Homo sapiens: one gene and its partner. The protein of the gene in region 1 interacts with the protein of each later gene in a biochemical or structural test. Each region holds a gene or a part of one and is shown on either strand. Other genes may lie near its edges. The genes, in order: MYO1C and SEPTIN9.

Region 1 (7,262 bases):
TGAAATAGTTCTTAAAAGCAAATGGGTGAAAGGGTATAAACACGCCTAAGACTTAAGTGCTCTCTTGGGGCAGCAGATTCCATTCTGAAAAGTAGTGCGCAGCTCACCACCCCTTCTGAGCAGAGCCCGCAGCGGCCGAAGCAACGAGAGTTTCCCTCCCTGCAGCGTACCCTGGCCGTCAGGAGGCCCAGGTCCCGGTCCTGGCACTGTGTGGCCCTGGCCAAGGCCATCTACCTCTCTGAGCCTCCATGGTCCGCTCTGATCAGGGAGGCCACTGGCCCTGCCTGGCCTGCCTCAGTGACCCAGCCCTGGGGGTGCACCTGCTCTTTTTTTTTTGGAGTGTAGTGGCACCATCTCGGCTCACTGCAACCTCTGCCTCCCAGGTTCAAGCGATTCTCCTTTGTCAGCCTCCTGAGTAGCTGGGACTACAGGCGCCCACCACCACGCCTGGCTAATTTTTGTATTTTTGGTAGAGATGGGGTTTCACCATATTGACCAAGCTGGTCTCGAAGTACTGACTTTGTGATCTACCCACCTCGGCCTCCCCAACTGCTGGGATTACAGCCGTGAGCCACTGTGCCCGGCCTGGGGTGCACCTGGGCAGCTGGTTCCTGCTCCTGAGGCCCTTTCAGCAGGCAGAGGGCTTGGCTCAGGCCGGCAGCCATCTGCAGCTTCCTCCCTGTCACCCCCAGGCACAAGCTGGCTGACCAGCGGACCAGGAAATCTCTGGGCCGAGGGGAATTCCGCCTTCTGCACTATGCGGGGGAGGTGACCTACAGCGTGACCGGTGAGGATCCTGGGGCTGTGTCCCCACAGGGGCCTGCGGGGAGGCTCTGTCTCACCTCACGTCGGTTCTCCCCTCCCAGGGTTTCTGGACAAAAACAATGACCTTCTCTTCCGGAACCTTAAGGAGGTGAGGAGGACGTGGGGAGGCCGGGGTGGGGGTGGGGATAGCCCACAGCTCTGCACCTGTGTCCAGGAGCCTGTCCTGCCTGTCCCTGTGCCCCACCCTGACCCCGGCTCTGCCCACACAGACCATGTGTAGCTCAAAGAATCCCATTATGAGCCAGTGCTTTGACCGGAGCGAGCTCAGTGACAAGAAGCGGCCAGAGACGGTGAGGAGGTGGCGGGACCGGGCGCAGGGGTGCATGCGCCTGAGTGTGCATGAGGGCCTGTGTGAGCCTGGGAGCTGGCAGCGTGCGTGTGAACGCGTGTGAGCCCGTGCACATCTGCAGGTGTCTGTAGGGGGCTGCCTTAGGTGCCTCTTTGCCTACTTTTTTTTTTTTTTTTTTTTTTTGAGACAGGGTCTCGCTCTGTTGCCCAGGCTGGAGTGCAGTGGCGCAATCTGGGCTCACTGCAACCTCCACCTCCCTGGTTCAAGCGATTCTCCTGCCTCAGTCTCCTGAGTAGCTGGGATTACAGGCGCCTGCCACCATGCCCGGCTAATTTTTTGTATTTTAAGTAGAGATGGGGTTTCACCATGTTGGCCTGGCTGGTCTCAAACTCCTGACCTCGGGTGATCCACCTGCCTCGGCCTCCCAAAGTGTTAGGATTACCGGTGTGAGCCACCACGCCTGTCCCTGTTTGCCTACTTGTGTGTGTGTGCTGTGTCTATAGTGGAGTCGTGTGTCTTCAGTGTGGGCTGTGTCTGTAGGGGAATCCTTGTGTACGTCTGTCTCTGTGGGTGCCCATATGTTGACAGCTGCCTCTGTGCGGTTGCTGTCATGTGTCTACCCACTCAGCAGACATTTATAGCAGACACTGCCAGGCACTGAGGTACCACAATGAGTGGGTGTGCCTGCAGCAACATGTGCACAGGGTGCTTTGCAAACTTAGAAGAGGGAACAGCAAACGGCCTGACGGGGCGGAAGGGGTGAGGGGTTGGGGAGGCTCCCTGGAGGAGGAAGCATTGGAGATGACTTGGGAATGTCAGATGAACCTATAGTGAGGGCCCAGTCCAGACACAGAGAGTCTAAAAAGGCCATGAGGTGAGCAGGAAAGCGATGGCATCAAGGAGAAGGACCGGGGGAAAGGCAGGCATGGCCAGGGTGCCAGATGCAGGGAGGGCTCCAGCGAGCTGAAGGCGGAGGTACGGCTGTTGGGCTTGGCAAAAAGAGGGTCAGGGGAGCCCCAGAAGAGTGAGGTCAGTGAGTCCATAGGGAGGTGGAAGCCAGACTGCCTGGCAGGGAGGGCATGCAGGCGACATGCTGCCCAGGGTGTGGCTCACTGTGCCCCTGCCCGCTGCTGCCGTCCACCCCACCCTCTCCCGAAGCACCACATCCTCCCGGCCCTAGCGTCTCCCTGCTGAGGATGCCTACACACCCTCCCGCCCAGGCCTCTCCAGCAAGCCACAGACTCGTGTATCTCATCCTCTTCCCCTAGGTGGCCCCAGGGCACCCTAGATCCCACTGGTCTATAACAAACGGGCCCTTGGTCTGCCCCTCCAGGCTTTCTCCTTCTTTGACCCAGTCCCCCAGGCCAGAAACCTGGGTGTCATCCCCTTTTTTGTTTTTGTTTTTGTTTTTGAGACGGAGTCTCGCTCTGTCACCCAGGCTGGAGTGCAGTGGCGCGATCTCGGCTCACTGCAACCTCTGCCTCCTGGGCTCACGCCATTCTCCCACTTCACACTCACGAGTAGCTGGGATTACAGGTACCCGCCATCGTGCCCGGCTAATTTTTTTATTTTTGTAGAGATGGGGTTTCACCATGTTGGCCAGGCTAGTCTTAAACTCCTGACCTCAGGTGATCCGCCCGCCTCGGCCTCCCAAAGTGCTGGGATGACAGGCGTGAGCCACCGCGCCCGGCTCCGGCCCCCTCGTTCTTTTCTCTCCTTGTCTCCCTTGTCCAGCCACTGGATCTTGCCGGAGTACTTAGCAGCTCCCCCTCAGTCCTTCCCTGTAGCCACTTCACCCGCCCCTCCTCCTTATCCTTTAAAGCTCAGCAGAGCGTCATTTCCAGAAGACGTCACCTGGTGCCCCCTAACCCTCAGACTGGATGAATTGTCCCTTTGTGGGGCTCTCAGAACCCACAGGCATACACCTGCTACTCTCGGAACACCGGGATTGTGAGTCTTTGCCAAGGAGCGTGCTCCTCCGCCAGGCCTGAGATCCTTCCAGGTCCCGCAGAGCAGCATACCCAGATACTAGCTGAATGCGTAGCATGGGACATGCTGTTTAGGAACGCAGCCCTGAAGTTCTAGAAAGAAAAAGAAGGGCCACTAAAGGGAGGTGTAGCACTGAGGTTGCTGGGAGACCTGAGCAGGAGTTTTAGGCTGGAGTGAGGCTCGTAGACTGAGGTCTCTCGCCCAGCCAGAGGGGTAAGGGGTGGAGTCTGGCCCCCTCCTCTGCTGCGAGGAAGCTGTGGTGGGAGGAGTAAGGACCAGGCAGAATCAGAGGCTGCTGCGCGCGTCACCAGCCAGGGGAGTGGGGTACTCGCTGCTGGGGTCAGCAGCTTTAGCCCAGCTCCGGCCAACCTCCCATGCCTCTTGGCTCGCCAGGTCGCCACCCAGTTCAAGATGAGCCTCCTGCAGCTGGTGGAGATCCTGCAGTCTAAGGAGCCCGCCTACGTCCGCTGCATCAAACCCAATGATGCCAAACAGCCCGGTAGGCCCCTCCCACGGGGGACTTCGGGGCCGGGCCTCCCCTGCAGGAGACAGGCCGTCAGCGCCAGCCCGCTGACCACGGCGCTCCCCCTACCCCAGGCCGCTTTGACGAGGTGCTGATCCGCCACCAGGTGAAGTACCTGGGGCTGTTGGAAAACCTGCGCGTGCGCAGAGCCGGCTTTGCCTATCGCCGCAAATACGAAGCTTTCCTGCAAAGGTGGGGGCAGGTCCTGCTCGGTGCCAGGGAAGGGGAGCGGGAGGGTAGGAGCCCCTAGGTCCCATGAGGGCAGACAAGGGTTCTCGGCCCCATTTTAGAAATGCGGATGCGGAGGCCCTGGGCTGCCCTTGGTGGAGGCCCTTGGTGCTGCGGTCCTGACATCAGGCTGGGTGGAAAGAATACCCGGCTCCCCCAGGCCGTGCCCTCCAGGAGCACCCGGTCAGGGGTACAGGAGGCCTCCGTCCACGTGCCGGGCACCAGAGGCAGACAGCAAGCCTTGTAGGGCAGCTTCCAAGGGGCTCCGAAAGGGTGGAGCAGCTTTGTGGTTCTTCTGAGTCGGGGGCCTGGGGGGTCAAACTGAATTTCATCTCTGCCACTTTCTAGTTACTTGGCCTTAGGTAGATAAGAACGGTTTCTTCATCTTTAAAATGGGGGCAGTGACCGAGTGAGCCTCCTGCTAGCTGTGAACGAGTCAGTGGGAGCACCCAGCAGGTGCCCAGAGAAAGCTGATTGGGGTCCCCAGGGCAGGCTGCTGACTGGGGTGGGAGCCGCGTGCATTCCTGTCCCCAGGTACAAGTCACTGTGCCCAGAGACGTGGCCCACGTGGGCAGGACGGCCGCAGGATGGGGTGGCTGTGCTGGTCCGACACCTGGGCTACAAGCCAGAAGAGTACAAGATGGGCAGGTGGGTAGTGTCCGTGCCGGGTGCCTGCGGGGAATGGGAGTGGCAACCCCGGGCTGATCACTACTGCTCTCCCAGGACCAAGATCTTCATCCGCTTCCCCAAGACCCTGTTTGCCACAGAGGATGCCCTGGAGGTCCGGCGGCAGAGCCTGGGTGAGAGAGAGGCCTACCCTTCCTGCTGCACGGGGTCCCTTCTGGGAAGCAGGGAAGTCACTCCCTTGGGCTCCTTCTCCAGGGAGTCCACCCCTCCCTATCAGCTCCAGCCCCACGCCCAGCTCCAGGGAGTCCTTCTCCAGAGAGTCCAATGGCCGACTTGGAGCCCCTCCCCACCAGCTCCAGCCCCACGCCCACCATCCCACCCGCCGCCCCCCTTTTCCGGGCAGTCCCCACATTCATTCTTCTTCACCACTCTCCTCCTGCTCGTTGGTTCCTTCAGCCACTCTCCCATTCATGCCACTCGTGGAGCGCACACGGCACCAGGCTCCCAGCTGGCTCCCCGCGCTCTGGCCAATTGCCTTTCTTTCCCAACCGCAGCCACAAAGATCCAAGCTGCCTGGAGGGGCTTTCACTGGCGGCAGAAATTCCTCCGGGTGAAGAGATCAGGTTCGCGGGCCCATGGGTGTTCAGGAGGGGCGGGGTCTGGGGCCAGGGGGGGCCACCATGGTAAGAAGATAGAGTTCAGCCATCTGTGGTCTCCACGACAGCCATCTGCATCCAGTCGTGGTGGCGTGGAACACTGGGCCGGAGGAAGGCAGCCAAGAGGAAGTGGGCGGCACAGACCATCCGGCGGTGAGCGCCAGGGTGCCTTGTGGGGGCTGCAGAGCAGGGCGTGGGGGGTGGTTCACCGCCAGGCCCCTCACCCCCAACCCTGTCTGGCCCCCCACCCCAGGCTCATCCGAGGCTTCGTCCTGCGCCACGCCCCCCGCTGCCCCGAGAACGCCTTCTTCCTGGACCATGTGCGCACCTCTTTTTTGCTAAACCTGAGGCGGCAGCTGCCCCAGAATGTCCTGGACACCTCGTGGCCCACGCCCCCACCTGCCCTGCGTGAGGTCTGTGGGCACCCCCTGCCAAGTTAGGGACCATCATAGTACACAGCAGAAGGGTCTGATTTCTTCGGGCCAAAGGATTGGTCAGGGAGGGCTCACGGAGGGCCCGGACCAGAGCTGAGCAGTGAAAAGTAAGGTCTCTTTTTTTTTTGAGATGGAGTCTCACACTTTCGCCCAGGGAGTGGCATGATCTCGGTTCACTGCAACCTCCGCCTCCCGGGTTCAAGCGATTCTCCTGCCTCAGCCTCCTGAGTAGCTGGGACTACAGGCGCCCGCCACTACGCCCGGCTAATTTTTTTATTTTTAGTAGAGACGGGGTTTCACCCTGTTGGCCAGGCTGGTCTTGAACTCCTGAGCTCGGGTGATCCACCCACCTTGGCCTCCCAAAGTGCTGGGATTCCAGGCGTGAGCCACCGCGCCCTGCCGAGTAAGGTCTCTTGACCGGAAGCGTCTCCAGATGGAGGGGGTGTTACTTATCCAAAGGATGCAGTAGCATATGTTCGATGTCTTCAGAGGGAAGGGCCCAGGGTGTCCAGGACCTCTGACCTCACTCCTCCCCTTAGGCCTCAGAGCTTCTGCGGGAGTTGTGCATAAAGAACATGGTGTGGAAATACTGCCGGAGTATCAGCCCTGAGTGGAAGCAGCAGGTACGGAGAGCGGGGCTGGGTGAGGATGAGGAAGTGGAGTCAGGGAGTCGCAAGCATTGCTCAAAGGGTGTCCGCCTGGAGGGGCATTTACCCCGGTCTACCGTATTTACCGCGTTCTACCGTATTTACCCCGATCTACCGTATTTACCCTGGTCTACTCTATTTACCCCAGTCTACCGTATTTACCCCGCCTACCGTATTTATCTCGGTCTACTGTATTTACCCCACCTACCGTATTTACCCCAGTCTACTCTATTTACCGCAATCTACTGTATTTACCCCGTCTATAGTATTGACCCCGGTCTACCGTATTTTGCCCTGCCTACCATATTTACCCCGCCTACCGTATTTACCCCGGTCTACTCTGTTTACCCCGGTCTGCTCTATTTACCCCGGTCTGCTCTATTTACCCTAGTCTACCGTATTTACCCCGGTCTACCGGTGACCTCAGTTGGATGCCAGGCCCTGCTGGGCCTCGTGTAGGAAGTGGACACTGGAGTACAGCTGGGGTGGCCAGTAGGGTTCATATCGTGGGCCAACTGCCCTTGATTGGTAGAGACTGCTCAGAACCCTGTGTTGAAAAGTCTGCGTCTTCACTCGGGTCGATTGGTGATATCTGCCCTGATTACAGGCATTGGTTGATGTGCCGTGTTTTTGCCAACTCAGTATTGGATGATGCTAAAGGGCCCACCCAGTAACCTTGAGTATTAGTGATCTGCTGCTTACAAGACCCCAAGCTGGAGCTGAGTCTCAGGGCCACCAGGGCCTGATGGGGTGGGGAAGCATTACCAAGGCCAGTTTCAAAACCCCGCAGTGCCTTCATGACCCCGCTGGGGAGTGCTTGGTGGCGGCAGAGGGTCAGGAAGTGGAGGGTTGATGGGCGTGTGGGGGGCAGGGCTCAGCCTCCTGGTGCTGAGCCAGAGAGGGACCAGCAAGCGGGTGAGGGAGGCTGTCTCAGGTCCTAAGGCTGGCTCTGCCCCCCCAAGATGGTGCTCCCCACCATGACACTCTCCTCACCCCCCTTGTCTCCTCAGCTGCAGCAGAAGGCCGTGGCTAGTGAGATCTTCA
Region 2 (7,262 bases), about 76 Mb from region 1:
GCCGGAAGTCGGTGCAGCCCACCTCAGAGGAGCGCATCCCCAAGACCATCGAGATCAAGTCCATCACGCACGGTCAGTGGCCGGGAGTGGGCTGGGGGTGCAGGACGCCCCTGCCTTCCTGGAGCACAGGGGTTGGGGGTCAAGACCATCACACACAGTCAGTGGCCAGGGGCGGGCTGGGGGTGCAGGACTCCTCTGCCTTCCTGGAGCACAGAGTGGGGGGTCAAGACCATCACACACAGTCAGTGGCCGGGAGTGGGCTGGGGATGCAGGACGCCCCTGCCTTCCTGGAGCACAGGGGTTGGGGGTCAAGACCATCACACACGGTCAGTGGCTGGGGATGGGCTGGGGATGTGGGATACCCATGCCTTCCTGGAGCACTGGTGCGGTGTGAGGGTGCCCGAGTCAGGCAATCCCAGGTCCCCAAGACGGGGACTCGCTGTGCCCACCATCCCCAGCATGTTGAGCATGTTGGGGCTCTGGCTGTGATGGGTCAGTGTCCCGGACCCCTGTGGGCCCCGTCACACTGAGCTCCCCACAGACAACTGAGTTTTCCACCAAAAGTCTGACAGGCAAGGGGCTCCCAGGGGAACCGTCACCGGCCTGTGCCGGAGTTGGCTGAGGAAGGCCATTAATTTCCCGGTGTCTCCTTGGTTGTCATCGCTGCCTACCTGGGGTTGCCCCGGGGTCAGTCAGGTGTGGGGTGTCTGTGAGGGTCTTCCGTCTCCCCTCTGACTCTGCGTCCGTGGCTCTGTGCAGATATTGAGGAGAAAGGCGTCCGGATGAAGCTGACAGTGATTGACACACCAGGGTTCGGGGACCACATCAACAACGAGAACTGGTGAGGCCCCTCCAGGGGGAGGAGCACTAGCGGGGGCTTCAGGGCTCCCTGGACCCCACCCAGAGTCAGCCCTAGAGGTTTCCCGGCCCGCGGGGGTGCAGGGCCCACCTCCTGGGACCTGACATGCTGCCAAAGCCGCACGTCTCAGGGGCCTGAAAATTCTGGACCAAAGCAGAATTACCTGGGGAATCTTGCTGTCCCCAACTCATCACCTGAGGCCAGCCCGGGGAGGCTGGTTTGGGAGGCCGAGGGTAAGGCTGTGGCATCTCCGCTCAGCAAGCCAGACCTCCCAGGGCATGCATTTCATTGGAAGGTGGGGTGTTGGGCTCTGAGTCCTGGGAATGCACGACCTGCTTGGGGAGGGCATCTCATGTGCCTGCTGACTCGTCCCCATCCCCCACGCAGCTGGCAGCCCATCATGAAGTTCATCAATGACCAGTACGAGAAATACCTGCAGGAGGAGGTCAACATCAACCGCAAGAAGCGCATCCCGGACACCCGCGTCCACTGCTGCCTCTACTTCATCCCCGCCACCGGCCACTCGTACGTCCCTGCAGTGTCGGCGTCCTCATGCCGGGTGCCCTGGGTTCCCTCTGTCCCCTGGGACTGCAAGACGGTGCTGTCTGCCCTGCTGCTGGGTGCAGAGGGGCTGAGTCAGGGGCCATGGCCGCCAGCTATGAAGTTGGGGGTGTGCCATGTCTGCACCTCCAAAGCCTCACACTGACCCCTATGCAAGTGTCCTGCCCAGCCCCCATCCTTCAGCTGCGTCTTGGGGAGCTGAGGGTCAGGCAGGCCCTGGGCTGTTCTGGAGCCTGGTGGTCTGTGTCCTGCCTTCTCAGGCCAGGCTCTGGCAGGTGGAGTGGGAGCCCCCAGCCAAGCACCCGTAGCGGTGACTGACCTTCTCATCCGGGCCCTGCCTCATGGGACCCCTTAGAGGGTTTGGTGCGTTCTTAGACGGGAAGCACAGAGATCAGTGCTGGCCCCTTCCAGGGCTGGACGGGGCTGCTGTTGGTGTTGGTGAGAGCCCTTTCCTCCCGCCGGCTCTGTCCGCACCTGACGTCGCCCCTAGAGATCAGCAAGGGCGGGAGGCTGCATGTACCCTGGCAGGTGGACTCTTCATGGCCTCACGGACCCTCTGTCCTCAGCTCCCTGTGCACCCCCTGCCAGACACCTGTGGCTCACCCTGAGCCAGGGCTGGGAGGAGGAGGACCAGAGGCCAGCAGGAGTGGCTGGTGGAGGCAGCCGTGGGTGGCTTGTCTGCATGGGTGGGTGGAGAAGGTCCTTCGCACCTGCTGTCCCAGATGTACTTCCCTGGGCGGAGGAAGCCCAGGGGTTTGGGGAAACCATACTCTGTGGGCACCAGGTGCAGGAAGGAGCCTGGCTGGTGGGCAGCGGGCCTCACCCAGAGTCTGTGGGAAAACCCAAGCCGGAGTTTTCGAGCCCACCCTCTGGCATCATCCTCTGTGGGCCAGCAGGAGTCAGGGGCAGGGGGCCAGCCCGCTGTCCATGGGCCTCTCCTGAACTGAACATCTGCCCTCCCAGGCAGAACGGCTCACCTGCGGTCCTGTGGCAGCTGTTCCAGCTGCTCCAAGCTTTGCCTCAGCTGAGGCTGATGGCAGGAGGCAGAAGCCTCTCCTGATGCCAGCTGGGCAAGCCGAGGGCGGGCGGGCGGTCTGTGGCACTTCTGCCACTCCCCAGCACTGACCCTTTGGCTGGGACTCCAGCTAGGCATGTTGCCTGGTCCCGCCCAAGGCGTCCAGTCCCATGGGGCAGGGGCGGGCCTTGGCCATCTCTGCTTAAACTTCTGCCCGGAGCGGGCTTCTCCCCAGCCATGTGTGTGACCGATTTATTCTCACTGTGGGAAAAGCTCGGCTCCAGAACTGGGGAAGATGGTGCCCCAGTTCCAGGGCCCTGCCAGCCCCTGCCACCCACAGCTTTCCCCACATCAGACCCCAGGCTCACTGGGGCCAAGCAGGCAAGGGGAGCAGCCCGCCTGGTGCAGGGGAGCAGCCCGCCTGGTGCAGGGGCACCGCACACTGGTGCTAGCTTCTATTTCTCTTGCCTCTCCCCTCCCAGCCAAAGCCCCACAGCAAGACGGCTGCTGAGCCAACGACAGCCCTTCTGTGTGGACATGTAGGGGTGTGGTTGGGACCCCAGAACTCATGGACGAGGGTGCTTGGAGCTGGCCCTGGCCCGCCTGGCCTGTGCAGTGGTGTCACCTGTGTCTGGGACACACCCGTGTCCTTCCTCTGCCCCACACTCACAGCGTGGCCGACTCGGCCCGGGGCCCTGTCCTTGCCAGCAGGGACCCCCGTGAGCCCCGAGCCAGCACCTGAGAGTGTCGACACCTGCTTGGGGGTGGGTGCCCCCCCACTGCCCCGCTCCCCCAGATGAGCCTCACGCACATCCCTCTGCTTCAGCCTCAGGCCCCTGGACATCGAGTTTATGAAACGCCTGAGCAAGGTGGTCAACATCGTCCCTGTCATCGCCAAGGCGGACACACTCACCCTGGAGGAGAGGGTCCACTTCAAACAGCGGGTAGGGTTCCATCTCTACTTGCCCCAGCCCTTCTGTGCAACCTGGAGACGCTGCAGGCCTGGCAGGGGCCACCCCGTCTAAAGGAGTCACACTGTCAGGGAGACCGAACCGCTGGTCACTCTCCCCAGCGGGTGGCTGGCCTGGTGGTCCCTGGCCCAGGTGGCTGCTGGGGGCCGTCCCTGAGATGGCCTCTCCAGCTCCCCCATATCTCAAAAGCAGCTTTGTGGGAGTGCCAATTCTCCAGCAGAGTCTCTGAGGGGGGTTTTGGAGAAGACCTGGACCAGGCAGATGGTGAATCTCTCTTCCAGGGAGTGAGGCCGAGCAGGGGCCGTGCGACATGGCCCACCTTGTTTTATGCCCCCCCTTTTTTTTTTTGAGAAAGGGTCTGGCTCAGTTGCCAAGGTTGCAATGTAGTGGCACAATCATGGCTCACTGCAGCCTCCACCTCCCAGGCTCAGTCCCCGAGTAGCTGGAATTACAGACGCACACCACCATGTCTGGCTAATTTTTGTATTTTTAGTAGAGACGAGGTTTTGCCATGTTGCCCAGGCTGGTCTCTAACCCTTGGGCTCAAGGGATCCTCCTGCCTCAGCCTCCCAAAGTGCTGGGGTTACAGGCATGAGCCACCTCACCTCGCCCTGCCTGGTTTTTATTAGATGGAAGAGAAGCTGGGCCAGGTGTGGTGGCTCACGCCTGTAATCCCAGCACTTTGGGAGGCCGAGGCGGGCAGATCACTTGAGGTCAGGAGTTTGAGGCCAACATGATGAAACCCCATCTCTACTAAAAATACAAAAATATTAGTCGGGCATGGTGGCGGGCGCCTGTAGTCCCAGCTACTTGGGAGGCTGAGGCAGGAGAATCTCTTGAACCCGGGAGGCGGAGGCTTCAGTGAGCCGAGATTGAGCCACTGCACTCCAGCCTGGGTGACAGAGCGAGACTCCATCTCAAAAAAAAAAAAAAAAAAAAAAGTTTCAGGAGGGATGGTCTCTGCCACCTTCTTCTCCGCCACCGTCTGAGGCCCCTGCTGTGGGATAGGGAGGGGCATCCAAGCAAGAGGGCAGCCCTGGGCTCTTCCTCCTGACAGGGCAGCACATCAGAGCCACATGGGGTGCCTTTCAAAATGAAACCGAGGTGCCTGGGCTGCGGCACCACATCTGCCTCGGTGGGTGTGGGTGGGGCCTGTAACCTACTCCGTCCTGGGGCCAGGTGTCAGGGACCTTCCCAGCATGTGCAGGGGAAGACAGTCCACACAAAGTGGGTGTGTCTGCCGGAGGCTACACACGGGCTGTGGTCTGTGCCTGGGCAGGCGAGCAGCCGCTCACTGGGATGTTTCTGTTGCACGTACCCATGTCGGGCTGCTGGCAGGGAGCTGAGAGGTTACTGCAGGCGGGGCCCCTGCTGGAACTGGGGACTGTGACGAGGGTTTTTTAGGAAGGGTTTCAGGAGGGGAGGTCTCGGTAACCCTGAGTACTTTCTTGGGGCTGTGATGAGCAGGAGAAGAGAGGTGGGAGGTGCTCAGGACGATGACCTTAAGCCCCTGGGGAGTTGCAGCGTCGCTCAGGACAGCAGGTGCACCTGCAGCTGCCCCTCTTCCCTCCAGGAGGCACAGGAGTTGGAGGTGATTGGTGTCACAGCCCCCCAGAGCCTGCCCTTGAACCCGAGCCTGGGGCAGCACACAGTGTGGAGGTCATGTGGCAAACACCAGTGGGTGGGTAGAGCTTGCCACAGGGATGGGCCCATCTCTCTCCCTCCTTATCCCAGATCACCGCAGACCTGCTGTCCAACGGCATCGACGTGTACCCCCAGAAGGAATTTGATGAGGACTCGGAGGACCGGCTGGTGAACGAGAAGTTCCGGGTGAGTGGATCCACTAGGATGTTGTTCCCAGGGGACCCCCAGTTCCTGCTGAAGGGTGGGTTGGGGGTTTGGAGGACCTTAAGCCATGAAATTATATTCTTGGGGCCAGAGGGCACTGAGCCCAGGTGTCTGTACCCAGTGCTGTCAGGCTGAGGCTCTCGTTTTTGGGGGACCCCAGGCTCAGGGCAGCTCCTCCCGGGGGCCCAGGGGAGGGAATTGCCTTCCCGCACATGTGTAACCAATACCGTCTGCCCGTTCCCCAGGAGATGATCCCATTTGCTGTGGTGGGCAGTGACCACGAGTACCAGGTCAACGGCAAGAGGATCCTTGGGAGGAAGACCAAGTGGGGTACCATCGAAGGTACTCGCCGCAGGCGCCGGGGCTCCAGACAGATGGGAAGACAGTCTCTTCTGCTGACCCAGAGCCTGTGGGCCACGCCTGAGCCAGGGACTCGTGGAACCTCATCCACTGCCTTGCCCCACCCAGAGGGAGGGGTCTCCTTGTCCCCATTCAACCCTTGGGAAAGTGAGAGGGCAAGTGGCCTGTGCAGATGCCTCCACCCCAGACCTCCCCCCGGGCAGGGAAAGATTCAGGGAGACAGGAGCTGGGATGGGGGCCGCCAAGTTCTGGATCCTGGTGCAGGCTCTTTCATAGGCACCTGTGTGGCCCTGGACAAATCGCCCAACCTCTCTGGGCCTAGAAAAGGGGTGGGCTGTAGCTCTGTGAGCCAGATGGACCCTCGGCCCCTTACCCTGCTGAAGTTCCTGGGACCCTCACACCTTAGTCTCTTGAGTGGCTGTTGTAACCAATTAGCACAAACGAGGGGACTTAAAACAACACAAACGTATTTTCACAGTTCCAGAGGCCAGAGGTCCGAAATCAGGGGCTGTTTCCTTCTGAGGCCCTGAGGACCAGCCTCATCCATGCCTTCCTCCTTCTGGTGGCGCCTGGCATTCCTAGTTGTATTGTAAAGGCATCACATGCTCTAATCTCTGCCCCATTGTCACAGGGCCTTCTTCCCTGTGTCTCTGTCCCGTCCCTCCTCTTCCTTTTTTTTTTTTTTTTTTTTTGTTTGAGACGGAGTCTCGTTCTGTCACCCAGGCTGGAGTGCAGTGTTGCAATCTCAGCTCACTGCAACCTCTGCCTCCTGGGTTCAAGTAATTCTCCTGCCTCAGCCTCCCGAGTATCTGGGATTACAGTCACGTACCACCCACCTGACTTAATTTTTGTATTTTTAGTAGAGACAGGATTTCGCCATGTTGGCCAGGCTGGTCTTAAACTCCTGACCTCAGGTGATCTGCCCACCTTGCTTGGCCTCCCAAAGTGCTGGGATTACAGGAATGAGCCACCGAGCCTGCCCTCTTTCCTTCTTGTCTTTGGACAAGGATGCCTGTCTTTGGACTTAGGGCCTACCCTAAGTGGATGATCCCATTTGGAGATCCTTAATGAATCTATAAAGAAAGACGTTTTCCAAGTAAGGTCACAATCATGGGTTCCAAGGCCTGGACCTTGACCATGTCTTTGAATGGATGGGAGCCCCTGGGGGGCCACAGTTCAACCCACTCCTGGCGGTGACACCCCGGGAGGGATGGGCCCGAACGTTTCCTTCCCCTTCCTCTCTCTGTCCCTTCATTTCTCATTAGAATGGAAGAGGGGAAGGTGCAGAGGGAAATGCAGCAGGAAAAGCCACTTTGTTCTGGGAGAGCACTTGGCTGAAAGGCCCAGTAGAGCAGGAAGCACAAGTCTCTTAATCTTCCAGGGCCTCAGTTTTCATCATCCACAAAGTGGGTGCAGTGTGCCAAGATTTTAGTGAGTTGAGAGACTGTCCCAAAGACCACAGAGCTTTTTGGGAAGCTGTTGCTCTAAAAAAATGGTCATAATGACAATTACCAGGAGGCATCAGACACTCCTGTGCCACTGGCTAGACATGGGTTATCTCGTTTCATGTCCGAAGCTCCCCGCACCCACCCTCCTTGCAGAGTTGAAGAGGTGCTGTGAGCAGAAAACCTGCCAAGGGACCCAGAAC

The links.
Region 2: the proteins of MYO1C (region 1) and SEPTIN9 form a complex in vitro, tested with the Homo sapiens proteins (one study listed by BioGRID).

Annotation. Positions count from the first base shown.
Region 1 is NC_000017.11:1,468,463-1,475,724, reverse strand, and holds part of MYO1C (unconventional myosin-Ic), read left to right. Parts: intron 1-692; coding exon 693-787; intron 788-866; coding exon 867-913; intron 914-1,034; coding exon 1,035-1,115; intron 1,116-3,496; coding exon 3,497-3,602; intron 3,603-3,700; coding exon 3,701-3,818; intron 3,819-4,388; coding exon 4,389-4,502; intron 4,503-4,577; coding exon 4,578-4,654; intron 4,655-5,035; coding exon 5,036-5,104; intron 5,105-5,205; coding exon 5,206-5,290; intron 5,291-5,390; coding exon 5,391-5,550; intron 5,551-6,110; coding exon 6,111-6,194; intron 6,195-7,228; coding exon 7,229-7,262.
Region 2 is NC_000017.11:77,487,481-77,494,742, forward strand, and holds part of SEPTIN9 (septin-9), read left to right. Parts: coding exon 1-72; intron 73-759; coding exon 760-841; intron 842-1,246; coding exon 1,247-1,384; intron 1,385-3,261; coding exon 3,262-3,379; intron 3,380-5,140; coding exon 5,141-5,236; intron 5,237-5,499; coding exon 5,500-5,596; intron 5,597-7,262.